Regions from separate parts of the Homo sapiens genome. Here region 1 is linked to region 2. Evidence: fine-mapped expression QTL. A gene starts in region 2. The other region holds a variant in brackets. All regions are shown on one strand. Distances are from middle to middle. Region 1 holds the start of MYOC (myocilin). Region 2 holds the start of VAMP4 (vesicle associated membrane protein 4).

Evidence for each region. PIP is the estimated chance that this variant, and not a neighbour inherited with it, causes the effect.
Region 1: its variant is fine-mapped to the expression of VAMP4 in lung (TOPMed, PIP 0.91).

Annotation. Positions count from the first base shown.
Region 1 is chr1:171,638,720-171,652,913 of GRCh38, forward strand. It overlaps MYOC (myocilin), which reads right to left and starts at 13,969. Exons shown (of 3, transcript NM_000261.2): 1 at 13,289-13,969; 2 at 1-3. The coding sequence starts at 13,892. RefSeq lists enhancers at 6,137-6,643, 6,644-7,150. The variant G/A (reference allele first, on the strand shown) is at 11,090.
Region 2 is chr1:171,733,446-171,750,110 of GRCh38, forward strand. It overlaps VAMP4 (vesicle associated membrane protein 4), which reads right to left and starts at 8,620. Exons shown (of 8, transcript NM_003762.5): 1 at 8,465-8,620; 2 at 4,904-5,018. The coding sequence starts at 4,969.

The sequences.
Region 1 (14,194 bases), 96 kb before region 2:
AAACTGCATTAAAAGAAAGAGACAAAATTTTACTGTAAGAAAAAATGGCCCAAGGATTGACTATGTTGAGGATGACATTTAAATAGGCTGCCGGCCAGGCGTGGTGGCTCATGCCTGTAATCCCAGCACTTTGGGAGGCCGAGGCAGGCGGATCACCTGAGGTCAGGAGTTCGAGACCAGCCTGGCCAACATGGTGAAACCCTGTCTTTGCTAAAAACACAAAAGAATTAGCTGGATGTGGTGGCAGGTGCCTATAATCCCAGCTTCTTGGGAGACTGAGGCAGGAGAATTGCTTGAACCAAGGAGGGGGAGATTGCTGTGAGCCGAGACTACACTATTGTACTCCAGCTTGGGCAACAAGAAAGAAACTCTGTCTGAAAACTAACTAACTAAATAAATAGGCTCCCAAAGATATGGTGTTTGAGATTTGATTTTAGATAAGGACTGGGGATGGGTTGGGGGTCAGAGAAGGGAAGATAAAACATGATTGGACTGTGCTGATAACAGTTGGGCCTGAGTGATGGCTACATTGGAGTTCATTGTAGTCTCTCTACTTTTGTGAATATTTGAACAATTCCATAATTAAAAACCTCATAAATAATAAATTGCAGGGCAATGTGCCTACCTTAGAGTAGGGTATTCAAAATCAAATAATATTTTAATTCCACTAGAAGGGCTGGTTTGTGAATAGGTGAGTCGTAATTTCAGGAATATGGAGACAGTCCTCAGCATCTTCTTAGATGTCTGAATTTCAATAATTAAAAATTCATGAAAAATTAGCTGGGCATGGTGGTAAGCATCTGCAGTCCTAGGTACTTGGGAGGCTGATGTGGGAGGATTGCTTGAGCCCAGAAGTTCAAGGCTGCAGTGAGCTATGATCCTGCCACTGCACTCCAGCTTGGGTAACAGAGCAAGGCCCGGTCTCAAGGTCTCAAAAAAAAAAAAAAAGAGACCGGGCACAGTGGCTCACACTGAAATCCCAGCACTTTGGGAGGCCGAGGCAGGCGGATCACTTAAGGCCAGGAGTTCAAGACTAGCCTGGCCAGCGTGGTGAAATTCCATCTTTACTAGAAATACAAGAATTAGCAGGGTGTGGTGGCACATGCCTGTAGTTCCAGATACTCAGGAGGTTGAGGATCACTTGAACCCAGGAGGCAAAGGTTGCAGGGAGCCGGGATTGTGCAACTGTACTCCAGTCTGGGCAACAGAGCAAGACTCTGTCTCAAGAAAAAAAAAAAAAAAAAAAAAAAAAAAGAAGTGTGGCTCATGTCTGTAATCCCAGCACTTTGGGAGGCCAAGACAGGAGGAGTACTTGAGCCCAGGTGTTCAAGACCAGCTTGGGCAACATAGGGAGACTCCTGTTAAAAAAAAAAAAAAGATAAAAGTTTACTGCATGACTTAAGGTTTTTTCCCTTGTTATATGCAAATATTCTTGTAAGAAGTAACATATTAAGCTTTATACTTTCAGTAGAAATATTCTGTCTGATTCCTTTCTGAGACCAGTTTTGCATAATGGAGAGGGAGTGTGTGCAGAGTTCCTATAGGAGTTTGGGGTGGGGGTGGTGAGCCATACAGAAGGGAAGCGGGTGGGCAGCATTGGTTAGACAGTAAGTGATCATGGTGTGCTACATGTCTCTACTCTTGCTTAGGATTATGATCTTACAGCAGTCTTGAATACAAGGATGAGGCAATAGTCACAAGGAACAGGCTTGGCTATTTTAAAATGCAGTTTGGCCAGGCCCAGTGGCTCATACCTGTAATCCCAGCACTTTGGGAAGCCAAGGTAGACAGATCACTGGAGCCCAGGAGTTCAAGACAAACCTGGGCAACATGGTGAAATCCCATCTCTACAAAAACTACAAAAAGTTAGCCTGGGTGGTGATGTGTACCTGCAGTCCCAGCTACTTGGGAGGCTGAGGTGGGAGGATCACTTGAGACCGGGAGGTCAAGGCTGTGGTGAGCAGTGATCGTACCTCTGCACTCCAGCCCTGGCGTAGAGTGAGACCCTGTCCTCCCCTCCAACCTCCCAAAAAACCCATCACATACACATAAAAACAAATAAAATGCAGGTTTGATGATTATTCAGGTGTGGCAAGGCCAACATCCCAGGAGGCAATTGTCACTGAAAAGCAAGTTAAAGCAAAATTATGGAGACAGTAAAAAGATCAGCAGTTGTTGGGTGAGGAAGGGATGACTAGGTGAGGCACAGACGATTTTTAGGGCAATGAATACTGTGTATGATACTATAATGGTGGACACATGTCACTATGCATTTGTCTAAACCCATAGAAGGCGCAACACCAAAAATGAACCCTAATTTAAACCGTGGACCTTGGGTGTTGTGCGTGCTGATGCAGGTTCATCAGTTGTAACAACTGCTGTGGCGGGAGATGATGATAATCGGGGAGGCTGTGCATGTGTGGGGGCCAGTAGTATCTGGGAACTGTTTGTACTTTTCTCTCAATTTGGCTGTGAACATAAAACTGCTCTAAAAAAAAATTATCTTTACAAGTTGTTGTACTCACAGAGCCCAAGAGGAAGGGGGCACACTAAGCCCAGGAGGCCACCTGGGGAAGCACCAGGGTTGCTCCAGAAGAGGGCACCAGGGGAAAATGTGGGAAAGCGCCTTTATTCTTTCCATGGGAAGGAAAGAAAGGGGAGGCAGGGTAAGCAGGTTTAGGATTGGGGAGTTTGAATAATTTCAGCAGGATCTGGGGTCACAGGAGTTATCTCTAATTGTCTGGTACCAGGCCCTGGGTGATTAGGTCAGGGGGACAGTGGCCTTGAGTTTGAGCCAGATGGAGGTGGTCACAGGGTGTGGGCTCTGGATTGGTTGGTTTGCATATGAAAGCTGTCCTCCCAGGTGAGTCCTTTGCTAACCGTAGGAACTGGCTACCCCTGGGAGGGGCAGTCCCTCTCACGTTTGCAAGGCCCAGACAGCAAAGCATCAGAATAAAAAGACATGCTTAATACACTGGGCTTTTCTCTTGCTGAACCTCTGAGTCACTTCTCTGCCCTTTGAGCAACTTGTTCCCCGCTCAGGATTCTCAGGTGTTCAGGACAGTGGGAGGAAAGTCAGTGCATCCCCTGAGGCCGGAGCGCCTACACAGCCGAGAGGGTCGGGAAGACATGTTCTGCCTTTGATCATTTGTTTGCTCAGCTCTCCTAAATTTAGATTTCAGGCAGAGAGGATCACCACAGAAGTCTTAATCCTCTGGTTCTACCACATTTCATCAAAGCCACACATTATTTTACATTTTCACATCTCCAGAGTCAGGGTACCTTGTTTGAGTTGCTGGGGTTCAGCTTCAACAAATTATAGTACTGGAAAAAATTTCTCCCTGGAAGGAGGTGAAGAAAACATTCAGCTAGCTCTCAGGTGCAGGCTGGGCCAGACAGCCATGCTGCCCACAGTGAGCCAGCTCAGTAGCTGCTGCAGCTGCCTGCCCCTGATCCCAGCTACCCTTCTCTCCTCTCCACCCCTGCCTCTGTGTGGCTGCAGTTGTTAGCCTCCCTAAAAGTGTTAATGCCCTGGAGGTGGGTGGGTCCTCCATCCCTGGGATATCCCTCAGTCTAGAGTGCACCATGTAAGTAGTTAAAACCCATAAGCTGGCCAGGCGCAGTGGCTCATGCCTGTAAACCCAGCACTTTGGGAGGCCGAGGTGGCAGGATTGCATGAGGCCAAGAGTTTGGGACCAGGCTGGGCAACATAGCGAGACCCCATCTTTACAAAAAATTAAAGAGTTAGCTGGGTGTGGTGGTGCAGTCTGTGGTCTCAGCTACTCGGGAGGCTGAGGCAGGAAGATGACTCTTGAGTCCAAGAGGGCAAGGCTGCAGTGAGCCATGATCATGCCACTGCACTCCAGTCTGGGTGACAGAGTGAGACCCTGTCTTAAAAAAAAAAAAAATTAAAAAAAGAAAGACTCATAAGCCAAAATGTATATGTAACTGAGGACATCCTCAATGTGCATTCCAAACTCCAGGGGCAATTGGGAGTACCCCCCGGGACATGGCAGGCCTTCATTATTCCTAGCCTCAAATCCACAGAGCTATTTATCCATCCTTTTAGTCACATCATTGGAGCACCTATTGAGTGCAAGGCTGTGCTAGGTGCTCAAGAAAAAAAGGTGTCTAAGACACAAGTTTGTCTAATAGGCTAGTCTATGTTTAAAAAAAAAAAAAAAAAGACACAATCAGTCCATGCCCTTAAGGAAATCATAATCTGGCAAAGTCCTCATACCCGAGAAGGAAAATGGGTTTATTCCAGGCTGCTGCGGAAACCAGTTTCTTGGACAATCTGAATGGCTCCTGGAGAGTCCTGGAAACTTTTATTTCATTCCCTGCGTCTCCTTCTCCCTATCTGAGGTTGTGCAGGGGTGAGGAAACCCCTTTGTTCTTCATTCTAAAGGTTGCATTGGCCTAGGAGGGTATCCAGGGCAGGGACTGATTCACTAGGTCAAATGGAGTTTCCTTAGATCGACCTGAGACCAGTACCAGCTGCTTCCCTTCTCCCCCTGTGCAGGCAACACACACCTCCGGCAGGGACTTGGTGCTGCCTATGGGGGAGAGGGACAGGGTGCCCGAGGTTCCCTGTTCTTCTGTGCTGCCAGGGAGAGGTAAGAGAGAGTGACCGCCTTCCTGTACACAGGTGGCAGAACCATCTGTAACCTTCCTCTCTGATGCTGCCTCGCCGATTGCCATGCCTTCTCTCTTAGGCCCAGAACACACACCCAGGCTGTTAGGAGCAGCCCACCGCTCCCTGGCCCTGCCAGCCTCCTGCAATGTGCAGAGGCTCATTCGATGTGGCAAAGTCTTGCCAGGACAATTTTTCAAAATCAGGGCATTAAGCAAGTTCCTTGAATTGAGCTGGTTTCCTTTCATCTGTACCTCTTCTTGGATCACTGCAGACTCTGCCTCAGGACAACTCAAATTTCTTTTCTTTCATTGTCTCAACTCTCAGAATATAAGAGTTGCTGGGCATGGTGGCTCACGCCTGTAATTCCAGCACTTTGGGAGGCTGAGGTGGGTGGATCATGAGGTCAGGAGTTCGAGACCAGCCTGACCAACATGCTGAAACCCTGTCTCTACTAAAAATACAAAAATTAGCCGGGCATAGTGGCACATGCCTGTAATCTCAGCAACTAGGGAGGCTAAGTCAGGAGAATCGTTTGAACCTGGGAGGCAAAGGTTGCAGTGAGCTGAGATTGTGCCATTGGACTCCAGCCTGGGTGACAGAGAGACTCTGTCTCAAAAAAAAAAAAAAAAAAAAAAAAAGGAGTTGGTTTCAGGCAATGTGAGGAGAGAGAAATACTGCATGCCATCTGTACACAAAGTCTGGAGGACTGCCCCAACCTTGTCCCTACACTTCAGCTATGCCATCCACAGTTGCCATGGGAGGGTCCCTTAATAAATGTGTCAATACTAAAATTTCTCTGGAATGTTTCAAAATCACTAACATTTCATTCTGAATGTGGAAGAAAACCAAAAAGAGATTATGAAAATATTAAGGGCTATATTGTGACAGATCGTTAACATTTTTAGGGCTTTTTTTTTTAGGTTTTTAAAAAAATATTAAATTCAGGCGAGCCATCCCTCCCCTGCATCTGGCCCCTTTACACATACAAAATGATGTATTTTATGCTGGTTATTTAATTTAACAACTTACCGAGAAAAGATGTATACTAAGAAAAGTAGGGGTACCTACCTACCAGTCAGTGGGGAGAAAATTAAGAAAGAAATGCCCCTTTTGCTATAGAGGGAAGGAAGAAAGTGAAACCCAAAAAAGTCAGGCATTTTCACAGATGACTTCCTTGTGGATAGCTAAAGTATGTACTGGCTTTGCAACTCTAAAAAACAGCTTTTTTTTTTTTTTTTTTTGTGAAACAAGATGGTTTGTCGGCATTTATAGCTCTTTGCCCATTTCAAGTAATTTTTATGTAATTTTTAAATGTGATCTGGTGCCTTCAAAGTTTCAGAGAAATAGAGAAAGGCTTTAGGACTGCAGATAGCGCCTGATAAAGTTGAACTATCGCTACTACTTATTAAGTGTCTCTTATGAGCCAGTACTGTGCTGGGTGCTTGCTACTCACTACTTTCAAATAATGGTCCTGAAAGTGAACATTAATATCCCCTTTTGCAAATGAGGAAACCGAGGTTCAGAGAGGTTAAGTAACATGCCCAAGGTCACACAGCTAAGTGGTATCGCTGGGACTTGAACCCATGTCTTCCGAGGCCATGGCAGCTGCGAACTCTTCCATCCTGTGCTGAGGAGGTGTGTCAGTTATAAACGCATTGCCTCTCAGAGCTGAATGCACCCTCCCATGTATGCTGTCTGAAGAACAAGAGCTTTGAAGTGAGCGCGATGTTGAACTATCTCAGTAGAGGGCGCTGGAGGGACATCGTGGGAGGAAAAAGGTCTGCAGTTTTCCTGTCCTGCGTCCATAGGTGGTATGACTGTGAGGACATTTGTTGGAGTCCTACCCCAGCCACGGACCCAGAGCGAAGTTCTTCTGTGACCTCACAGCCACAGCCTGGCCATAACCTTTCCACAGCCCTCCCAACAAGGAACCCAGAGTCCCTGCACACGGACCTCAGTGCTCTGGAGGCCTCCTGCCTGTGCCTGCCCTGACTCCCACCATGCCCTTGCCACACGTTGCAGGTTGCCCTCCTCACCTGCACTGGGAGGCGGCCTATTGCAGCTGCAGACCAGCTGAGGCCTGCACACCTTAGCCACCTTCTCTGCAAGCTGATGTGCTGAACCTCACCTTCCCCTTCCAAGCTTGTCCGGCACCCTCCCTCAGCCCTAGGTGCCTATGGAGTTCACGTCTATCTATAGTTGCTCTTTCATCACGGTTAGTAATTCTTTAAAGTAAACTTCCCCAGCTTAACCCACTGTGTGATTTCTATCTCCCGACTGGACCCAGATGGCTACTGGAGGCTTCAGAAGAGTCTCAAAGATGCTGCTCAGCACTTTGTGGGGTGACCCACTCCTGGGGCTGAGCTCAGGTCCCAGTGGGTTGCCTTGTAAACTCTCAGCTCCTGGGCTGTGCACTCAATCCTCTTATCAGTTCTTCTACCCTCACTGGCAAAGAAGAGGCAGCAAAAGTGCCTGGCTGGTGCCAAGTTCCCTGCTGAATCCCACCATGGCCCTTACGGCTCTGAGCAAGGAGCCCTTCAGATTGTGCCTTGCAGGAACCACTCCTTATGTGCATTAGCTGGAATAAACATGAACTGCAATAAAACAAAATGTCAGGGAATGGCTTCCAGGATGACGGCAAGGCCAGTTCCCATTTGGCAGGGGCGATGGTTAAGTTATGAGCCTGCTGGCTTCTTCTAGGTCATGTCAGCCAGGAGCATCTGGCAATGGTCAGACTCCAGGAATAGAGCCATCTGGCATGCGGGTGGAAGCCCAGAATAGAGGATGCAAAACCCAAAGGCAGGGAAACAATCTCGTAAAGGGGCCTGGACCTAAGCCGGAAGTCATAGCTCCTAGTTCAGCTCTGCCATGTCCCAGCTGTGTGACTTTGGGTAAATGACTCCACCTCTCTGAGCCCCAGTATGCTGAGCTGAATTGTTTGGATGATTACATAAGTAACTATAAATGAAATGGCCCTCAATAAAGATGTGTCAACACTAAAATTTCTCTGGAATGTTTTAAAATCACTAACATTTCATTGTGAATGTGGAGGAAAACCAAAAAGAGACTGTGAAAATATTAAGGGCTGTACTGTGTCAGATAGTTAGCATTTTTGGGGCTTTTATTTTTTAAGGTTTTTTTTTTTGTTTTTTTTTTTTTGAGACAGGGTCTCGCTCTGTCACCCAGGCTGGAGTACAGTGGCATGATCTCAGCTCATTGCAACCTCTGCCTCCTGGGTTCAAGTGATTCTTCTGCCTCAGCCTCCTGAGTAGCTGGGACTACAGGTGCCTGCCACCACGCCTGGCTAATTTTTGTATTTTTAGTAGAGACAGGGTTTTACCATATTGGCCAGGCTGGTCACGAACTCCTGACCTCGTGATCCGCCTGCCTCAGCCTCCCAAAGTGCTGGGATTACAGGCGTGAGCCACCACGCCCAGCTGTTTTTTTTCTAGGTTTTTTAAAATGTTAAATTCAGTCCTTCTGTGGTTTAAAGGTTCATGTCTATTACAAAATTCTGGAAATGTTCTGTGTTCTCTGCCGTCGCTTCTTTATAGACTTGGCATTTTAGAGACCTCAACCCGGAAACTGAATTTATTAACTCGTTTGCCTGTAGACATAGGCATTGTAATAATTTTCATAGATATTTTCTATCACTGGAAAGTTCAGTCCATATTACATAAATGAAAGGAATGAAGTAAAACAAGCTATGCCTAATTATCTACAGGTTGTCAGAAACATCTTAGGAAAGTGAAGACTAGCTAATAGACTATTGTCCTGAGTACTGCTCTAACTTGTACTGTCTCTAGAATCAACGCATGTTATTAAAATGTTATGCACATGTTGACATATTGATTATTGAATGATGCTTTAAAACAATAGTGGAACCCTGGCCAGGTGCAGTGGCTCATGCCTGTAATCCCAGCACTTTGGGAGGCTGAGGCGGGTGGATCACGAGGTCGGGAGTTCAAGACCAGCCTGGCCAACATGGTGAAACCCCATCTCCACTAAAAATACAAAAATTAGCCGGGCATGGTGGCGTGTGCCTGTAATCCCAGCTACTTGGGAGGCTGAGGCAGGAGAATTGCTTGAATCCAGGAGGTGGAGGTTGCAGTGAGCCAAGACCACGCCACTGCACTCCAGCCTGGTGATAGAGCGAGACTCCATCTTCAAAAAACAAAACAAAACAAAAAACAAAAACAATAGTGGAACTCAAGTAAAATAAGCCTTTCTAGTTATATTTTATTCACTGGGTGGCCACTGCTCAGCGCTGCACTGGGTGCTTCCCTGTGTGACTGCTAATTTGCATGATGACTCCCATGAGGGATTCTCATCCCCATCCTATTCTAGGTGAGGAAAGGGAATCTGCAGCACTTGTGTTGAACACCTCAGGTTTCTCCCCTCACCCTCCCCTCACATCCTGCCCACTTTTTTGCAGTCATTGCTGAGGCAACCTGCCTCTTGCAGTTATCACCTGCGGGGACCTCGCCTCAGCCACCGTGGCCCAGCTTCTCTGACTTTCTGCATAGAAAGTCTACAAGAACAGGCCAGGCGCCGTGGCTCATGCCTGTAATCCCAGCACTTTGGGAGGTCAAGATGGGTGGATACTTGAGGTCAGGAGTTCAAGACCAGCCTGGCCAACATGGTGAAACCCTGTCTGTACTGGAAAAAAAAAAAAATACAAAAGTTAGCTGGGCGTGGTAGTGTGCACCTGTAATCCCAGCTACTCGGGAGGCTGAGGCAGGAGAATTGCTTGAACCCAGGAGGCGGAGGTTGCAGTGAGCCAAGATCGTGCCACCGCACTCCAGCCTGGGGGACAGAGAAAGACTCCATCTTAAAAAAAAAAAAAAAATCAGTCTGCAAGAACAAACCTCGTCCCCACATCTGAGTATCAGGGAAGCGCAATATACTCCATGGGATAGCCCTTGGCCAAGAGGGTATCAGATCCATGCGTAAACCTCCCCTCTTCTGTTGCAGTCTACACAGCCCCTCTGAAGGGCTTGATGGGATTGAGCCTCCATTGCCCACTGTGGTGACTAGCTGGAGAAGGCCCCCATTTTGTGGCTTTCCTGCCTTCCCTGTCTCACTTTCCCCTGTCTCAACTTCTCTTCTCTAGGATCATGGTCCATATAAACCAACTGCACACAAGCCCTCTTCCAGGCTCTGTTCAACAGGAGACCAGTCCAAAGCAGGGGCTAAATAACAAACAAAGCAGTCCTTCTCTTGTGACAGTAATAACCAACTCTAATTTATCTTCTAGTAAATTATATATGTATTTTATTATATATATAATAAATTTATATATATAATTATATATATTTATATGTATTATATGTAATATATATATTTTTTTGAGATGGAGTCTCGCTCTGTCACCCAGGCTGGAGTGCAGTAGCGTGATCTTGGCTCACTGCAACGTCTGCCTCCCAGGTTCAAGCGATTCTCCTGCCTCAGCCTCTGGAGTAACTGGATTACAGGTGCCCGCCACCACACCCGGCTAATTTTTGTATTTTTAGTAGAGACAAGTTTTCACCACAGTGGCCAGGCTGGTCTTAAACTCCTGACCTCAAGTGATCTGTCCACCTCGGCCTCCCAAAGTGCTAAGGTTACAGGTGTGAGCCACCACACTTGGCTAATTGTATTTTTTTTCTACTTTTCAAAAACTATTATATATACATAAAATTTATATATGTATATATATGAAAATTTATATAAGCCCAGAGAAGAAAAAGTTATATATAACTTTGTAGTAATAGTTATGTAGTAAAATATGTCATATTATGTGTATGTATAAACAAGTGATTTCTATGATTATAAGGAATTTTTTTCTACATAACAACTATTAATACATGATCAAGAAAGTGGTGGTAACAATTTGAGTTGCAGGTGGAATACAGAAAGGCTGCCTTCTCAGGCCTTACCTTTGTCCACTCAGCCTCACTAAGCTTCTCTACCCAAACCTTCACACCTAGTTCTTGCCACTCCTGCAAAAAAGCATACCTAGACTTATATTCCAGCCTCCAGAATGCCCCCTTTTCCCTAGATCTGGCCTTGAAACAGATCTTTTGTTCCAAGCATTCCTGTACCTTTCTGTCTTTTACCTTTAGGGTCTATAAACCAGAGGTCAGCTGAAGGTCTTGAAAGTCAATGAACCTCATGGCCATGTACAGGGAGGGCTCACACCTGTAATCCCAGTGCTTTGGAAGGCCGAGGTCGGCAGATCACCTGAGGTCAGGAGTTCGAGACTAGCCTGACCAACATGGTGAAACCCTGTCTCTACTAAAAATACAAAATTAGCCGGGCATGGTGGCACATGCCTATAATCCCAGCTACTCAGGAGGCTGAGGTAGGAGAATTGCTTGAACCCGGGAGGCAGAGGTTTCAGTGAGCCAAGATCGTGCCATTACACTCTAGCCTGGGCAACAAGAGTGAAACTCTGTCTCAAAAAAAAAGAAA[G/A]AAAGTCACTGAACTTCAGAGGAAGAGGCCAGAATTCGAGCTTTGCCACTAACTGGTAGATGGCCATGGACAAGCTGAATAACCTCTCTGGGCCTCAGTTTCCATATCTGCAAAAATCAGCCAGCGGTACCGGATGCTCATTAGGTCCCTTTCCAGTTCCACATTCTTGTACTAATGTAATTTCCTGCTCATGAAAAACATCTACTACTAGAAAAGAACTTCCATGTTTGGTGTTCAATATAATGGGATGTTGCCCTTATTTCAAAAGTGGAGTAGCTGGAAAGATCAAGAAAAAATATAAAATTAGGAAACACATCTAATAAATCCCCAAAGACTTGTTAAATGACCACAAAAGAAAAAAAAAGGCAAAACATTGCCACTATTTTTGTACACACACACACACACCACCCACACCCACATACACACATGCAGGAGTTTTTATTGAGAATGTAACTTCATTCAACAGTCTGAAATAAGTAATGCCTCATCACACTTCTGGTAATGATGATTCTTTCAATTGTCTCCACAGATTCAAGTCTCAAGCTCTACCACTGACCAGCTGGGCAACCTTGGCCCCTTAGCATCTTAGGACTTCACTTTCCTTGGTTGTAAAATTCAGAATTGGATCTCTTCTAATTCTAACAATCTAAACATTTTTTAAAAATCCTTTACATCTTATAGGTATTTCATGTGAACCCCACAAAAATTATTCACAGCAGGAATTTTCTTTGTTATGTTATGGACAAGAAATGAAGATGCAGAGGGTTCAATAACTTGCCCAAGGTCATCCCCAGGCTCTGGCTCTTAGGTTTTCTAACCCCATAGCTATGAAGAGCTTGCCTTTCACGTAGAAGGCTCTTTTTAGGAAATATTTTCTCATAATTTTAAAGCTTTTCAAGCCTATAGAAAAACTGAAAGAATAGTACAATAAGCTCCCCATATACTTAGATTCACCAGTTTGTAATTCACCAGTTATTAATATTTTGCCACAGTTGTTTTACCTTTCTTTCTCTCATTATCTATATATTTGCAGTCTTTCTTCAACCATTTGAGAGCAAATTGCAGACATCCTGACGCCTCACCCTGGGTACTTAAGCATGTATCTCCATAGAACAAAGATTTTATCCTTCGCAACCACAGTATCATTATCTCACCAAGAAACTGAACATTAATACAGTAACATAATAATGAGCAGTCAAATTGCCTCAGTTATCCCAAACCTGTTCCTCATAGCCTTTTTCCCCCTTGGATGAAGACACCAATCAAGACTCATGCACTACATTTGGTTAACACATTTCTTTAGTCTCTTTAATATAGAACAAGCCCTTCCCCACCCCTTTTTTCTTTCTTCCTTGGCACTGACATCTTTGACCAGTCCAAACTAATTGTCCAACAACTGGATTTGCTTGCTTATTTCCTCATGATTAGAACACTTCCTCAACAGGGAATATTTGGGAGCCCACTTTCACAAAAAGTGACACAAATACCATCTTCCCAGCTAATAAGAAGACCTCCCCCAACACCTCACCCCCGCACCCCCCCCACACACACACAGACTCACCTTTAGGCAAGAAGGGACCAGGATGAACAGAAGAGCCTCTCAGAAAAAGCCATCTCAAGAATTTGTCTGATGACTTAAAAGCAGAGGTTCTCAGATTGGACTGAGTAAGAAAACTTTCAGAACAACATATTAAGAAAACTGACAGAGAGGTGCCATCTCTTTATTTTGCCAGGGAAGAACATTTAAAAATAAACAAAAACTTACCACTTATTATCATTTCCCAAATCTATTGTAATTTCATAAATAAAGGTCATTTTAACATCAAAAGGTACAAATAACAATCTGAGCAAAGGTTCAAAAAAGGATAGTTTTTCAAAAGGGACAATTGACAACTTTCTACTGCTCATATGCAGACACATCTCACCCGGTCCTTTTATTTCTCCTTTTGCTATGGACTGTGAAAACTGACATGGAGGGGCACAAGAACTCTGAACCACTAATCTAAATGAAGCTCTCAGGAGCTAAATTACTAGTAATACTTGAAGGTGATCGCTGTGCTTTCCTTAATTCATCTGTCTTGTGCTAGCTGTGCAGTCTCTAGGAGAAAGGGCAGGCAGGGAGGCCTGGAGCGCCTGTAGCAGGTCACTACGAGCCATATCACCTGCTGAACTCAGAGTCCCCCCACTCTGCATTCTTACCTTCTCTGGAGCCTGGTGGCACAGCCCGAGCAGTGTCTCGGGTCTGGGGACACTGGCCCCTTCTCAGCCTTGCTACCTCCTGGCTGCTGCTTTCCAACCTCCTGGCCAGATTCTCATTTTCTTGCCTTAGTCGCTTCTTCTCTTCCTCCAGAACTGACTTGTCTCGGAGGAGGTTGCTGTAGGCAGTCTCCAACTCTCTGGTTTGGGTTTCCAGCTGGTCCCGCTCCCGCCTCAGGGTGCCCAGCTCCCTCTGCAGCCCCTCCTGGGTCTCCTGGGGCCTGGCAGCCTGGTCCAAGGTCAATTGGTGGAGGAGGCTCTCCAGGGAGCTGAGTCGAGCTTTGGTGGCCTCCAGGTCTAAGCGTTGGGTGCTGCTGTCTCTCTGTAAGTTATGGATGACTGACATGGCCTGGCTCTGCTCTGGGCAGCTGGATTCATTGGGACTGGCCACACTGAAGGTATACTGGCATCGGCCACTCTGGTCATTGGCCTTCCTGAGCTGAGCTGTCCTGGCCCCCACATCCCACACCAGGCAGGCCAGAAGCAGCAGCTGGACAGCTGGCATCTCAGGCCCAAAGCTGCAGCAACGTGCACAGAAGAACCTCATTGCAGAGGCTTGGTGAGGCTTCCTCTGGAAAGCTCTGCTGTGCTGAGAGGTGCCTGGATGGGTGGCCTTGCTGGCTCATGCCCGAGCTCCAGAGAGGTTTATATATACTGGGGAGCCAGCCCTTCATGGGGGAAGACAGAGGTGGCCACGTGAGGCTGGGTGGGGCTGTGCACAGGGGGGTTGCCTTCACGCTGCCAGCAAGATTCTTAGAAAATAACCTTCCAGAAGTCTGTTTGGAGTTTCTTTTTAAAAAGAACATCCCAATTTATGCACCCATACCCCAATAATAGTTCCTATATCTC
Region 2 (16,665 bases):
CCAGACCCTGTCTCAAAATAATAATGATAATAGTAATAGTAATAATTTATTTGGTTTAGAGGATAATGATACTAAAGATATGTTTACTATAATTGTACACTGAGAAACACACATGAAAACCAATGCTTTTTCATATATTAATTGAATAAACACAAGTGCTAGGGATACAGTGTCAAAAAAGAATAATAGGACACAATGAGATAATATTTCATACCCACTAGGCAGATAATATTAAGTGTTGGTGAGGATGTGGAGAAATTAGAATCATCATACATTGCCGGTGAGAATGTAAAAATTGTACAACCACTTTGGAAAACAGCTGGGCAGTTCTTCAGAAGGCTGAACAGAGAGTTACTACAATACTCAGCAATTCTACCTTTAGGTATACACCAAAGAGAAATAAAAACATGCTCAAACAAAAACTGGTATGCTAATGCTCATAGCAGTAGTATTTAAAATAGCCAAAAGTAGAAAAAAACCCAAACATCTATGAACTGATAAATGGGCAAACCAAATGTGTTATATCAATATAAGGGAATATTATTAGCAATAAAAAGGAATGAAGATCTCCCAGCACTTTGGGAGGCCGAGGTGGGTGAATCACCTGAGGTCAGGAGTTCGAGACTAGCCTGGCCAACATGGTGGAACCCCATCTCTACTAAAAATACAAAAATTAGCTGGGCGTGGTGGTGTACGCCTGTAATCCCAGCTACTTGGGAGGCTGAGGCACGAAAATCACTTGAACCCAGGAGGTGGAGGTTGCAGTGAGCCGAGATCGCACCATTGGACTCCAGCCTGGGCAACAGAGGGAGACTCCGTCTCAAAAAAAAAAAAAAAAAAAAATGAAGCACTGATATGCACTATAACGTTGAGGAATCTTAAAAACATTATGCTAAGTCAAAGAAGCCAGTCACAAAAGGCTATATGTTATATGATTCCATTTACAGAAAACGTCCAGAATAGACAAATCTATAGGAGTGCAGTTGCTTAGAGGCTGAGGGGATAAAGAAAATGGGAGATGACTGCAAAAGGGCACAGCATTTCTTTTTGGGCTAATGAAAATATCCTAAAATTGATTGTGGTGATTGTTGCACAACTCTGTGAATATAATAAAACTCACTGAATTGTACACTTTAAGTGGGTGAATTGTATGGTACGTGACTTTTATCTCAATAAAGCTATTACCAAAAAAGTATAATAGGAAAGAGGAACAAAACTTTTAAAAGATTTTAAAAGTAATTTATATATTATTCTAACCAATCAGTTATCAAACTTCATAATATAATAAACATCAAAAAGGAGTTCTCTTGAAACAGTCAATTTTATTCAGTTCTGGTGTCTAATATACTAATAATCAATGAAGAATATAAGGAGAAAGTGATACAATTACAGTCTCAGCAGTGGAATTTATTGAGACAATACATTTTAAATTTAAAAATGTATTCATAAAGCTTATTTATTTGTATTATTTTTAATTTAAGGTTTACTATTGTTTTTCTTGAAGTAATTTTTCCTGCCCTTGTTATTAGGGTGGGCTTTATGTACTATTTAATCTGATTTCCACACATATTATTAAACTGGTATTTAATATCTACAAATAATAATTTTGTCACTATTTTCTCAGGATTATGACCAACATGCCATGAAACTGTGATCCTAGTATATCACGCCTGGACTTGATTTTTAAAAAGCAATCATATTCAAGTGACTGTGTCCTTAACAGTGATTCCATTAAGTGAACAACAAATTTACGTTCAGCAGTGATTGTGAGAAAGAAACACAGGGGAACTTAGGAAATATAAATAGTTTCAGTTTAAAATCATGTAAAAATAAAACTATAAAATTAATGGGATTTGCATCAATTAAAAATTATTAAATAATATACTCTTGCATACTATACATTGAATTTGGCTACAACCTTCTCTGCTTTACATACATTTTTCAAAATTGACATAGATTGTATGAATTACAAACAAGTTCCGAGAGGTGATTTTACTACATACATTTCCATACTTCAGTCTTCATCTTACACAAAGGCAGATGTGACTTAGGGGCTCTCTGTCCAGGACTGAGGTATTTACCTGACATATCTCAGATATCAGTCAATCAACTGTCAGCATTTATTGATCATCTTCCAGGATATTAATGCTTTGCAAGCATCTCTGGGTAAGTGACTAAAGATTTCCTTGGGGCAATAGGAAAGAGGCTCAGATTCTTCTAACCGATGATTTAAAAAATATTTCAGCATGCTTTGTGCACGCTGATCACTGAATATTCATCAGGAGCTTTCAGTCAGCTTTTACTGGATGCATATCAAGTCTGTGTTGTTTTACACTGGGTTCCTTTATAGGTTCACAATTGGTATCATTTACTTTAACAAATTGACATTTATTCTCTGAATGGGTTTAGTATTTCGCCAAACCTTCTGCTTTGTAAAGACATGCTTTTTTTTTCTTTCTGAGATGGAATTTCACTCTGTCACCCAAGCTGGAGTGCAATGGCACAATCTCGGCTCACTGCAACCTCTGCCTCCCAGATTCAAGCAATTCTCCTGCCTCAGCCTCCCAGGTAGCTGGGATTACAGGTGTGCACCACCGCACCTGGCTAATTTTTGTACTTCTGCTAGAGATGGGGTTTCACTATGTTGGCCAGACTGGTCTTGAATTCCTGACCTCAAGTGATCTGCCCGCCTCGGCCTCCCAAAGTGCTGGGATTACAGGCGCGAGCCACCACGCCTGGCCAAGACATGCTTTTGATAGTAAATCTTCAGTGTATGGAATTCCAGCACAGGTATATCAAATTTTCTGAATCACTTTTTCTTGGAGGTTTATCTTGAAAGATATTACATTAAAGAAAGAGACCCTGGATTATCCCTGAGTGATTTCTCAATCCCTGATCATCCTCTGCCTTCTCTCGGCCAGAGCCTTCCGGGTTCACCCAGACTTGGTATATTTCAAGGCATTTCTCAATTCCTTGCATGGGGAACTAGCTCAAGCAGACACTAAGAGTTTCACCATGGCATGGAGGAAAAGATAGGTGACCAAAATGGTTGAAACTGCACCAAATGCTAGTAAGCAGTTGAAATTATGGCAAAGAAGGAGTAACTGGATTTGGCAACATGGAAATCATTGGTGACTCCTTAAAGTTTATTAGTAAAAGCTTGCTAGCAATTAATCTATTGGTGGATTCTATTTCCCCATTAAAAAACAAAACAAAACAAAACAAAACAAAACAAAACAAAACAAAACAGGCCGAGTGCAGTGTCAAATGTCTGTAATCCCAGCACTTTGGGAGGCCAAGGCAGGTGGATTACTTGAGCTCAGGAATTTGAGACCAGCCTGGGCAACACGGCAAAACCCCATCTTTACGAGAAAAACAAAAACTAGCTGGGCATGATATCATGCACCTGTAGTCTTTGCTACTCAGGAGGCTGGGGTGGGAGGATAGCTTGGGCCCAAAAGGTGGAGGCTGCAGTGAGCTGTGATTGCACCACTGCACTTCAGCCTCAATGACAGAGCGAGACCCTGGTCTCAAAAAATAAAAACAAACCATCAGAAACACACAAAACCGCAAAAGCTGTACAAAGGGTTAGAATAAGGGGAAGAAAATGTTTCCTGTGTTGTACTAAAAGAAACTTATGACTAAAAGTCATAAGATGGTGGACAGAGTGGATAATATGAAGTTCTGAGGTTGTCCAAAAAGAGCATGTAAAACAAAGCAGACTAAAAGCTTTGCAAGGGCACAGACTATGTCTTCCAATTTTTAGCCCAGTGCCTAGCACATAGGAGGTGGTCAATACATATTTGTTGAATGAATCAAGACAAGAAGGAAAGGAAGGAGGGCTTCAGAATGGTGCATTAAAAAAATAAGAACGTGAATTATTTCCCCCAATAAATATGTATTGAGTACTTATTCTAAAAGTAATCTGCCTACAACATTCATATAAAATGTTGTCTTTTAAATGCGGCATAATTTCTAGATTTATATATATTTGCATAGAATGTTCTGGAATAAACTAGAAATTGAAGCATTATATAAAAGATACTCTGGAACATAAGATAATTACAGGTCTGGGGACCTTTATTTGCAATTCCAAAATCTAAAAGCTTCTGAAAATCAAAAAGTTTTGGAGGAAAATTTGACCTGAACTGATGTTAGCTAGTTTATTTACACACTTTATTTACATAGTTAGTTAGATATAACTAAATATAGACTTCACTGAGAAATATTAATATTTTTGGAGGCACTGGTCCAGGCCCCAAAAATGCTGTTACATAATATGTTCTTAACTTTCTAAAATCTGAAAAATTCCAAATACATTCAAAGTTCTGAATAAGATATTGTGTATTTGTATAAAACTCCCTTTCAAAAACTAGAAAGAAGCTATGAGAATAATGATTTGATCAATAATGGAAGTAGAATTCAGTTGTCACCAATCTAAGTAACATGTTTTTAAATACATTTGCTATGAAGAAAACAATTAGGATTAGAATATAGTCATAAGCTTTTGATTTTTCTGTTGTTATTATTATTAGTTAATTAATTTTTGAGACAGGGTCTTGCTCTGTTGCTCAGGCTGGAGTGCAGATCACAGTTCACCACAGCCTTCATCTCCCAGGCTCAGGTGATCCTCCTGCCTTAGCCTCTTGAATAGCTGGAACCATAGGCATGTGCTACCATGCCCCATTAATTTTTTAAAAATTATTTATAGAGACAGGGTCTCCCTGGGTTGTCCAAGACAGTCTTGAACTTCTGGGCTCAAGCTATTCTGCTTCAGCGTCCCAAGTGCGGCGATTGCAGGCATGAGCAACCACGCCCGGATGGTTTTTCTTCTATTATTCACAAAGGGAATGAAAACATATTTTGAATCTTTTGTTTTTAAAGCTTAAGATTCCGAACTTACCCTTTCACTTTTCACAGAACCTGTGACATCATCATCATTGAGGTGGCGCTTAAACTTGGGAGGCATATTTTTTACTTGCAAAGTATCTTTTGCTTCTCAACAGGATAGTCACCACCTTAAAGAGAAAATAAATTTCATCAGATTTGAGACTTTGGGGCATAAGCTAATGTACTTAAAACAGTGTACATGAAACCCTGTATGACAGGGACTCCCTCATTTTTCTGACTTCAATTCCTGCCCTCTCACTTGTTCCACTCCAGTGACTGGGGCCTCCATGCTAGACCTCAACACCTAAGAAATAGTTAAAATTATGAGAAAATGGATGTAATTGCCCTAAGAGAACATGTGTAGGATATGAGTGATTTAAGATTTTTATAAAATGAAAGAGCAGAGAGTAGAGGGAGGACGTCTCACTGAGACATTAAATGCTTTACAATTTAAAGTTGGAGTCAGAAGACAGGAGAACATGCCTATTTCTCTCACTTTTAGTTGGTTGCTTAAGCAATGATTCAGTTTCCTCAGGTGTAAAATACTGATTTTCAGGCTTCTGCAGAGTTGGGACGGTCAAATTGGATAATACATGCAAAAATATTCTGCAAACTATAATGTCCCATTGGTACTCCATGAAAAGGGGTAAGTTTGGTAAGTACTGGTGTGATATCGTGATTTACAAAATATACTCATTTGGTCTTAATCCCCATTTCCTGACATATCCTTGGAATCGCTGCAGTGATGTGTCTTGTGTATGCTAATAAGATGACTGGTAGCTTAGCCCCCAGATAGATTCCAGATGGAGGCTGGTCACAGAAAAACCTAGGCATGATTAGAAGACTGGGACTTTACAGCCCCACCCCCTAGCTTCCTGGAAGGGGAGGAGGGCTCAAGGTTGAACTGATTTCTAATAGCCAATGATGTAATCAATCATGCCTACTAAGGAAGACTCCATAAAACCCAAAAAGGACAGGGTTCAGAGAGCTTCCCAAAAGCTGAACAAGTAGAGAGTTCCTGGACGGTGGCACACCTGGAGAGGGCACAGAAGCTCTGTACCCCTTGCCCTATGCACCTCTTCCATCTGGCTGTTGATCTCTATCCTTTATAATAAACCAGTAAACAAAGTGTTTCTCTTAATTCTGTAAGCCACTCTAGCAAATAAACTGAACACAAGGAAGGGATTGTGGGAACTCTGATTTATAGCCAGTCAGTTGGAAACACAGGTAAAACAACCTGGAACTTGTGATTGGCACCTGAAGTGGGGGGAATCTTGTAGGATTAAGCCCTCAACCTGCAGGATCTGATGCTATCTCTAGGTATACAGTATCAGAATTGAATTAGAGGACACCCAGCTGGAGAATCTGCTGCAGAATTTCCTCCTTGCTTGTGAGGAGAAATCTTTTGGGGGTCTGTGTTGAGAGAGAATAGGAGAAACTCAATTTTTTTCTATCAAAACAACTGGATTAAACAAAGCTAGTTTTCTTTGCTACAGAATGACTCACATCCTGTTATATGCTAATATGCATTGTGACTTTCCAGGAAAATGCTTGTGTATGCAACATACTAAAATTTTTTTTTGCGAAAAAGTTCTTCTATGCAAATAATGAATTTTCAGTATTTTTGACTAGATGGTAGATGAATACCCATCAATTCAGGATAGCTCAGAAATACTGAATGTTTTACTATGTGCTAGGCACGGTGCTCAGTGATACACATGCATTTTCTTTTACTCTTTATGATGCTTCTTTAAAGTAGGCACCAAGAAACTAGGAGAAAACTAAAGTTTAGTAACGATAACGTTAGTCACTACATTCATTGAAACAGCAGAGATACAGGCCTAAATTAATCAATGGCTGTGCATTATCAGTTTTAATCATTTGTTCAATTAGTTGCCCATCAGGTTTACAGAATTCTGTTCTAGAAAGACTCACTTCCTGCTAACAACCCAATAGTCCTGCTTCCTTTTCCATAAGAAGAAACACTTAGACCTTTAAATTAGGTATAGTTAGACATCAGTTTGTTTGTTAATGATATACACTTAAAAAAGAATAATCCCAGGATCTGGCTTCACGAACCAAATAAAAGTAATGTTTTAAGTCAGCTGCTTGTCAAAACCAAAGGACACACTTTTCTTTGATAAGAAATGCTTCCAAATCAGAAATTATTCACTTGTAACAAAAACCAAATTCTTGCTGCCTGAGTAACAGCTCTTGAGTTCTTGGTTCCACAATATTTCTGTCACATACATCTGGCCCTTTTATTCCTCATACTTTGATGTCAGAATACTTCATTCATGCAGAAATGTAACAGAATGCATGGAAAAACAGATGACAAGGCAAATTACTGAAGAACTTGTGCTTTTAACTATTATCTGTATTTAGATTTTAACCCCTGCAATGAGGCTGCCTCAACATCCCAAAGCAAACAACGGGCAGACTTATATAATGCCTTTATAAGACATACAGTAAAACTACAATCTTAAGGATGAGCAAACACCATATTCAGGTCTCTTAATCCCAAGAAACCATGTGCAACAAATAGCCCATCAGCAAAGCAGTAGGCAGATTAATTAGCTACCTTGATGAACTTTGATGTTATTTGCAACTGATTATTAGTAACTGATATGTGTATCAAACAACTAGTAGAAATAAATCATGCTCAGAAAGTAGACTAGGATATAGTCTGCCTAAGATTTCTCCTACAAAAAAAGACATGTGAATTCAGCTGTTTGTGACTAGGTATACATGTAAATAAGAGAGCCATCATGTACTTCCACATTGAGGATAGACCACCACTATACAATTCACTCAAATGAGTCACATCACCGTATGCTTCTTATACATCAGCATATACTTAAATGTCTATGTGTGCGTTTTTGTAAGTAGTACGTTATCTAGTCAATAGCTTTGAATCTGGGCAAAGGCTCTCCTTTTCCCAGCCTCCATTCTCTTTCTGATTCGTCTTCCTTGTCTGTCATCAGCCTTCTTGCTTGATGCAGTTTCACAGAAATAAAGTGACTTGGATGGACACAGACCGGAGATATTATTTGCAAAACCTGTCAAGTGTAACGATTCACCCCCACCTTCCGGTCATTATAAACACAGCAGGGTTGGCGCTCTTTCCCCCGGGCCCTTTAAATACACAATTTCAGGCAGCTCCGTTCACCCCCCACACCCAATCTGTCACACCAGGCCACGTCCCACGATATATCTGCTCCTAACGCTGGCCCTTCCTGCCCCATTGTACCCCCTGGAATTCCTCACTACATCCCACTCTTAACAAACCTTCCCCATCCATGGTACTGTTCTCTTCCCATCACCCCAGAGTACCCCTCAATTCCAATTCTTCTCTCCCTCAACTGCTCCTCGTCCGCATACCCCTGTCCTCGTCTTCCTTCCTCACGGCACCCCCGGCCCCAACCTTTTCCCACTCCGGGGTCCCTTCCTAGATCCCCGAGGCCCGCCGACCAGCCCGACTAGGACGTCGGGGGGCGGCAAGGCAGGGGCGTCTTCTTCGTTTCCTTCCTCCTCACACCAGCCCCTCCCGCTGCGAACAGGCCAGCGCCAGTACCTGAGGCTCCCGGGGAACTCCCGGCAGCTCTCCCGGGCTGGCGGTGCTGGGCGGGCGGGGGAAGGAGTAGGAAGCCGAGGTAAGAAGCTGGGAGGGGGAGACAGTTGGTGCGGACCCGGCGTCGGCCGCAGCGCCGCAGCAGCGCCTCCGCTCATCGAGCCGATCGGCGCTCGGCGGCCTGGCGCCAGGCGGAGGGGGCGGGTCCAGGGCACGGAGATAATCGAGGAAGTCGATCCGCCGAGCCCTATTCACCTAAAAGAGCCCGAACCCACACGCAGTTTAGATGCATCTCTCCAAATTTATGCTGTGCTTTAGGGGAGGAACAACCACTGGTTGTCCACGTTCCGGTCGTGATCCGGCGTGCGTGGAGGGCGATTAGGGGAGGAGTGGGAAACTTCCGAGAACCGCTCGGGACTGGGCGCCGCGCCGGAGTGCGTGGCTGGGGTGATGAGGCGTTAGAAAGAAGGTGGTGCTTGGTGGCACATCCGTCCCTCTGGCTGACTACGTTGAGTGGCAAGTGGAGAGTGGCTCGCAGCTCGAGGACCTGCTTCGGGTTCGTCTGGGGCCTTTTCTGAAGAAAGGAGATCTGTTTGATCCCCTGTTTACAGAATTAGAGCTAGACTTGGAAAGAGATGTTAAGGCCAGGCTCCTCCCTTTAGATAGGAGGAATATCTGGTTCAGAGAGGAGATTGACTTAAAGTTAACACGGCTAGTTTAGATAGATACGGGACGAGGGCTCGGTGTTCTTTTCCCGGTATCCCTTAGTTGTAACCTGAAAGCCTTCAGGAAATCGCCCTCGCCAGGCCATTCCGCCACTCTGCCCATTCCTTCCTCACTCCCTCCCCCTCCGCCCAATTTGGTATCATGTTTAGATCTCCACGCCCGCAGTAGCTGTCTACCAGAAACAATTCCTAATTTTGTTTTTCCGTTCTCTTATTTGTTTTATTATCCGTTCCTCCCACGCCCCAGCTGGATTATTTTACTCATTGAATCATATTCACTACACATCTTTTAAAATTAATACAGTATCTATGGGTCCTTTGTTGATACAGTATTTTAACTGTCTGAAATACTGTGCCAGGCACTTTCTAAAGACATAAAAATAAGAGGGGGTGTTCAAGAACAAGAGTAGACAAGAAAACAGCAGGAGGAAAGATCTGCGGACACTAAAGGAAAGGAAAGAATAGACACCCTCTTACCAAAAAGTTGTTCTTCTTTTGTTTGATGTTTATTTTTATGTAAAAATGTACTAACGAATTTGAAAGATGCCATGACTAAGGCAACGATGCTCCACTCTGATTCACTTGGAGTTGAATCACTTGGAAAGCTTTTAAAACTACGTAGGTGCCCACGTGCTACCTAGATTCTGATTTAAATGTTCTGAGATTTAGAAACAGCCGTTGAGTTGTCAGTTGAAGGTTCTGAAAGCTTAATGCTAAACTCAGTTGCCTGTGTTTATTCAGTCCAAGTTGCTGTCCAAGTCAGCAACTTGGACTGAAACGGCCCACTTAGAAGAGAAGCCTCTCATGGTTTGTATCCCTGTCTAGGTGTGATAGTGGGTCTACCCCCAGACTCCACAGGTAACCCTGACATTATTTTTTCTTCTACAGCTGATCTTTTTTTTTTTTTTGAGATGAAGTCTCACTTCTTCCCCCAGGCTGGAGTGCAGTGACACAATCATAGCGCACAGCAGCTCTGAACTCCTGAGCTAAAGTGATCTTCCTGCCTCTGCCTCCCAAGTAGCTGGGATTACAGGCATGAGCAGCTGTGCCCAGCACTTACAGTTGATTTTATGTCTGTATATTTGCATGTTATGGGCTATTTTCTGGCTTTGGTGCCTTAGCCAATTAGAGTTTAGCTAGTTATAGCCTCATCTCTTAGACAACTTAAGGTGTGGTCAGTGAGCTCTAACAGGCACGTCATTGCATAGCTTTTACAGATAATCCATTCTTTGGGTTTTTTTGTTTTTTAAACATAATTCTTTAGTCCTGCCAGTCATTTTGGAATGATCGCTTAGGAGAGGGGTAATGCAAGCCCCACCCTTAATCACCTGAACAAAGTCCCTTTGACTAACCCCAATATTTGTGAAACTTAGAAAATGTCATTTTACAGTTAACATGAATCAAATATACCAGTAAGCCTAAAAGATTATAATAGCACTGAGCTTAGAGTCAGAACTCCAAGCAACTTGAGTTACTTATTTCCTCCATTTTCTTTTTAGTGAGCTTCAGTTATTCAGATGTTAGTCCTCTAATTTTCTTTTCCCCTTTTTCAACATGACACCTTCATCCTTAAGAGGGCCTGCTGTCCTCCTAGCTAGAGAATCAGCGTTTTGCTGTCTTTCAGGACTAAATCTCTGGGTTTTTGATGGGATAGCAAAGGGAATCTCAGCATCTGATTCATTCTTAAACAGACTTTATACCATTCCGCCTGTATTTATAGCTCACATCATGCTCTCTTCAGCTTTACGTGGTGTTTCCAATTCCTGAGCCTTATACAGGGTTTCACTGTGTGTATCAGGTTGCTTCATGGCCTGCTTGGGATTCCTACTTTTCAAGTCTGCTAAGGCAATTGCATCTTGATTCATCTCCCTTCTAGCTTTCAATATTTTGTTGCTAAATGTTCAACATTACTTAAAATGTAAAAGTGAACAAGGAAATACCATTTTTCATCTATCAGTGACTGAGAAAGAAGGAGTTGAGCAGAAGATCTGCAATCCAGTCTCTCCCTTCGTAGGGAAATACTCTCAGGAAAGCAAGGTTAAAGCAAGCAAAAAAGCATGTGATTTTTATAAAATATAAAGTATATACTAATTACAGACCTCCTGGCAAACAAACTAATGGCATTTGCTAGCAAGAGAGTCCATATTTACGGAATTCCTCTAACAGGATGTCCCAGGGCTGGGATTGTTTATGGTAAACACATTAAGAATCGATGTGGTAATTCCAGCACTTTGGGAGGCTGAGGCAGGTGGATCACTTGAGGTCAGGAGTTACCAGCCTGGCCAACATGGCAAAACCCCGTCTCTACCAAAACTACAAAAATTAGCTGAGTGTGGTGGTGTACACTTGTAACACCAGCTACTCAGGAGGCTGAGGCAGAAGAATAGCTTGCACTGGAGATGCGGAGGTTGCAGTGAGCAGAGATCGCGCCACCGCCCTCCATCCTGGTCAACAGAATGAGACTCCCTCTCACAAAACAAAAAAGAATCAATGCGGATTTCAGGGGTATGATTAACTGGAAAATACCGCGGAAGTTATGTAACGTAGCATAAAATGGAAGTGTTTTGTAACTGATTTGGCTCCTTCTGTGTAAGTGGGGTGACTGTACACTTGATTTAGAAACCACATCTACTGTCCTGGGCCAGGATGCATCCAAAGCAAGAAGAAAGGACCTGGGGATTACTGGTATCCTTGAAACTATTAGTAAAGCTTGATACTGAGTAAAATCTCTGATTTGAGCCTGATTTGACAGTTTGATCTTTTGTGTTAGCTCAATAGCAAAAATAAAAAAAATTTGATACTACAATATTGGGTGTGTGTATGTGTGGTATGGGAGCAGCGTGGGAGGAACAAGCATTCTTAAACAGTAAGAGTATAAAAATTGGTGCATTTTTAAAAATTTCATGGTAATTATATGTATCAAAATTTTATATGAAGTTCTTTTTGATCTAATAATTTTACTTCTAAAATTTATCCCATGGGTATACAGGTTGTATATAAAAGTATTCTATAAAAATATCTGTTACAGGATTTTTGTAACAGAGTGAAAAAAAAAACTCTAAATGTTCAGCAATAGGAAATTGCTGAAATGAGTCATAGTCTAGCCATTCAATAGAATAGTATGCAGCCATTAAAATGAACTAGATAGATCTATATGTGCTGACATGGAATACCTCTATGATGCTATAAGGTGAGAAAAGTAAGGTGCAAAATAGTGTGTAGACTCTACTTCCATTTGAGCATCACACACACACACACACACACACACACACACACACCAGGAGGACTGTGAATCTGGCATGGAAAGTGTTATGGACTGAATTATGTCCCCTCAAAATTCATATGTTGAAGTCTTAACTTCCAGTGTGACTAGATTTGGAGATAGGGCCTTTAGGACAATAATTAAGGTTAAATGAAATCAAAAAGGCAAAACCCTAATCCTGTAGGGCTAGTGTCTGAGTGCATGGGCACAGAGAAGAGGCCATATGAGAACACAGAAGATGGCCATTTGCAGTCCAGAAAGAGAGGCCACACCATAAGCCAACCCTGATGACTCCTTGATCCTGGACTTTTAGCCTCTAGGACTGTGAGAAAATAAATTTCTGTAGTTAAGCCACCTAGTCCATGGTATTTCATTATAGCAGCCCTAGAAGACTAATACAGAAGGGAAACTTTCTTGATGTGTAGTGTTTTGTACTATTGGAATATCTTTACCATGTATATCAGTTTTTCAATTAAAACAATGGTAGAGGCACTCTCTTCCCCTAAAATTGGGACCACTGGACCAGTTAATTTAAAAAGTCAGTTACAGTGGTACATATTTAAAAATGGCAAATATATACTTTAGTCATTTTATTTTGACTCAAATGTATATGTTCACTCACCAGTCTTGGTAGTAGGCCCAAGACCTTTTATCTGAGCATGAATTTGCTGGTTGGAACACCTGCTTTGTCTTTGTTACAAGTTGCATTGTTTACAGTTTACAGTTTCATTTTCTTCAAAGTGGAATAAGAAGTTAAAGACACCTTTCAAGCAATTTGAATGCCCAGTCAGTCTAGATTTTTGTACAATTTTTTCTCCAAAGTTTTACAGGTTTGTCTTACCTGTGCCTAGTTCTATAGTAATTTTTGTTTGTTGTTCATGTTTATCAATTTAGTTTTTATAGAAAATAACTTTCTATTTGTATTTCATTAGTTTACATATTTAAATATATTCTATAAGTATAATAGGCATAAATACTTTGGAGTACAAATGCAAATTGACTCTTGTAAGCATGTAACTCAATTAGTTTGGAGAAGAAGTATACAGATATCATGTAGTTAACCATAAGCTTTTCATGCTTAGAGTGCCTTGGTGTTATATAAATATGATATTAGTTTATTTTAGTTTTGATTTTGAATGCTTTTAAATCCTCTATCCAGATTCATTAATAACGCTTTTCTAATGCTGACCTCAACTCCTAAATGGATTTCATGACAGTGTGAATAAAAACAAAATAGTTCAGCCCTCTTTTTGTCTCCAGGTAGATGAAGAAACAGAGTGCCAGAGAGTTTACGTGGTTTGTTAACATTTCACTAAGTTTGCTTTATTACTTCTCTTTAAATTTATATCTCCCCTCGGCATGCATTATTTGAAAATTAGTTATAGCTATCATGCCTCTTTACCCCTAAATACTTCATTAGATATCTCCTAAGAACAAGAACATTGTCTTCATAACTGTAATTCAGTTGTCAAATTCAGAAAATTTAACATTGATACAATATTATTTTCTATCAAAGCATCCATATCAAAGTTTGCCAGCCGTCTCAGTTATGTCCTTTGCAATGTGAGTATAGTCTACAGAGAAAATAGTAATGAGTAACAAAGCAAGAGGAATTTAGTTTTTAAAGATAAGTTCAACTATAGTTTAATTATTTTTAATATATATAATAATATGGGAAATGCCCTGATGCCTTCCTCATGAAACTTTAGATGTGACATTATAAGATGGTCTCAGGGAGGTGCTTTGTTTCTCTTCTAACTGTTCTTGTTTATTGAGGTAGTGACATGTTGCAAGAATTTTATCTTGGAGAAATTACCTCCCACAAAGATGGCAACATTAGAAGAACCTGCATAATAATATGCTCTAATTGTGTTACAAATTTATTTTACTACTCTGAAAGTTAAAAATGGTTACCATTTATTTTCTTGGTTTCATGCCTGTTTTCTTAAGAACTATGCTTAATGATTAGCATATGTTTCTGCACAAATCCTCTCTGATATCAAGTGTCATTTTCCTCATTTTATCATTTAGACCTCAAGGTTCTGAGATGACGTGTGATTTGTCCAAGGTTAGAGAATGGTACAACTGAGAACACTAGAAAATATCGCAGAGCAATAAGCTTAAATTGAGATAAATATTTTCTCTAAATGAATCACATGCTTTTCCCTTATAATAGAGATTAGGCGGCTGGGCGCGGTGGCTCGTGCCTGTAATCCCAGCACTTTGGGAGGCCGAGGCGGGCGGATTGCCTGAGGTCAGGAGTTTGAGACCAGCCTGGCTAACACAGTGAAACTCCATCTCTACTAAAAATATGAAAAAATTAGCCCGGCGTGGTGGCACACACCTGTAGTCCCAGCTACTCGGGAGGCTGAGGCAGGAGAATCGCTTCAACCTGAGAGGTAGAGGTTGCAGTAAGCCAAAATCGTGACACTGCACCTGGGCGACAGAGGGAGACTCCATCTTTAGACGGAGAATCCATCAAGCATAATGTCTTGTTATGATCGCACTTGATTCAAGAGGCTTTAGTCTGCTTAAGGTAAAATACAACTGTAATTTCTTGCTGAAGATGGTAATATTTATCTTGAGTGAAGACTGTACTTTCAGGGTACAACAAACTATAACATAGAACTGTGTTATAGTTCTATAACAAACTATAGAAATGATCTATAGTTTGTTAATCTTGGGTGCTATATCAAAGTGAATCAATTTGTCCATCAGATATGTGTGACAGGTATTCTGTTAAAGTCTGGGGATACAAAAATGGCAAACAGTGTTACTGTCCTCTTAAAAACTTACAATCTTGCACAGAAAAACAAGACTAGGCAACTACAGCCATGTGCCACAGAAGGACGTTTCAGTCAACGAAGGACTGCATATATATAACATTATAATTGATCTGAAAAATTCCACCTAACGATGTTGTTGCTGTTGTGCAATGGATTACTCATGAGTTTGTGGTGATGTTGGTGTGAACAAACCTGCACTGCCAATCTTACAGAAGTGTAGCATATACAATTATGTACAGTCTGTGATACTTGATCATAAATGACTCTTACCAGTTTATTTATTATACTATATATCATTATTTTAGAGTATATTCCTTCTACTTATACAAAAAGTTTACTGTCAAACAGCCTCAGGCAGGTCCTTTGGGAAGTATTCCAGAAGAAAACGTTGTTAAATTAGTGTGTGTTAAAATAGTGTGTGTTATTGTTCCTGAAGACCTTCCAGTGGGACAAGATGTGGAGGAAAACAGCAATATTGGTGATCCTGACCCTGTGTAGACCTAGACTAATGGGTGTGACTGTGCATTAGTTTTTAACAAAAAAGTTTAGAAAGTAAAAATATATACAATAAAAAATTTTTAAAATAGTAAAAAATGGTCCAGGTGTGGTGGCTCATGCCTGTAATCACAGCACTTTGGGAGGCCGAGGCAGGTGGATTGCTTGAGCCCAGGAGTTTGAGACTAGCCTGGGGAACACAGTGAGACCCCATCTCTGCAAAAAATTTAAAAAGTAGCCAGGCATGGTGGCACACACCTGTAGTTCCAGCTACTCAGGAGGCTGAGGTAGGAGGATTGCTTGATCCTGGGAGGTCGAGTCTGCAGTGGGCCCTGATTGTGCTGCTGCCCTCTAGCCTGGTGGCAGAGCAAGACTCTGCCTCAAAAAAAAAAAAAAAAAAAAAAAAAAGTAAAAGCTTATAGAGTGAAAATAGAAAATATTTTTGTACAGCTATACAATGTATTTGTGTTTTAAGCTAAGTGTTATTATGAGTCAAAAAGTTTAAAAGTTTATAGAGTGAAAAATTATAGTAAGCTAAGGTTAATTTATTGGAGAAAAAGTTTTAAAAAATATATTTAGTGTAGCCTAAGTATACAGTGTTTATCAAGTATACAGTGGTGTACAGTAATGTCCTAGGTCTTCAGGTTCACTCACCACTCACTCACTGACTTGCCAGAGCAACTTCCAGTCCTGCAAACTTCATTCATGAAGTGCCATATACAAGTGTATCATCTTTAAACCTTTTATACCATATTTTTATTGTGCCTTTTCTATGTGTATCTAAACAAATACTTGTTATTTACAATTGCCTACAGTATTCAATACAGTAACATGCTAGACAGGCTTGTAGCCTAGGAGCAATAGGCTATACCATATAGCCTAGATGTGTAGTAGGCTATACCATCTAGGCTTGCGTGCGTACACTCTGATGTTTAC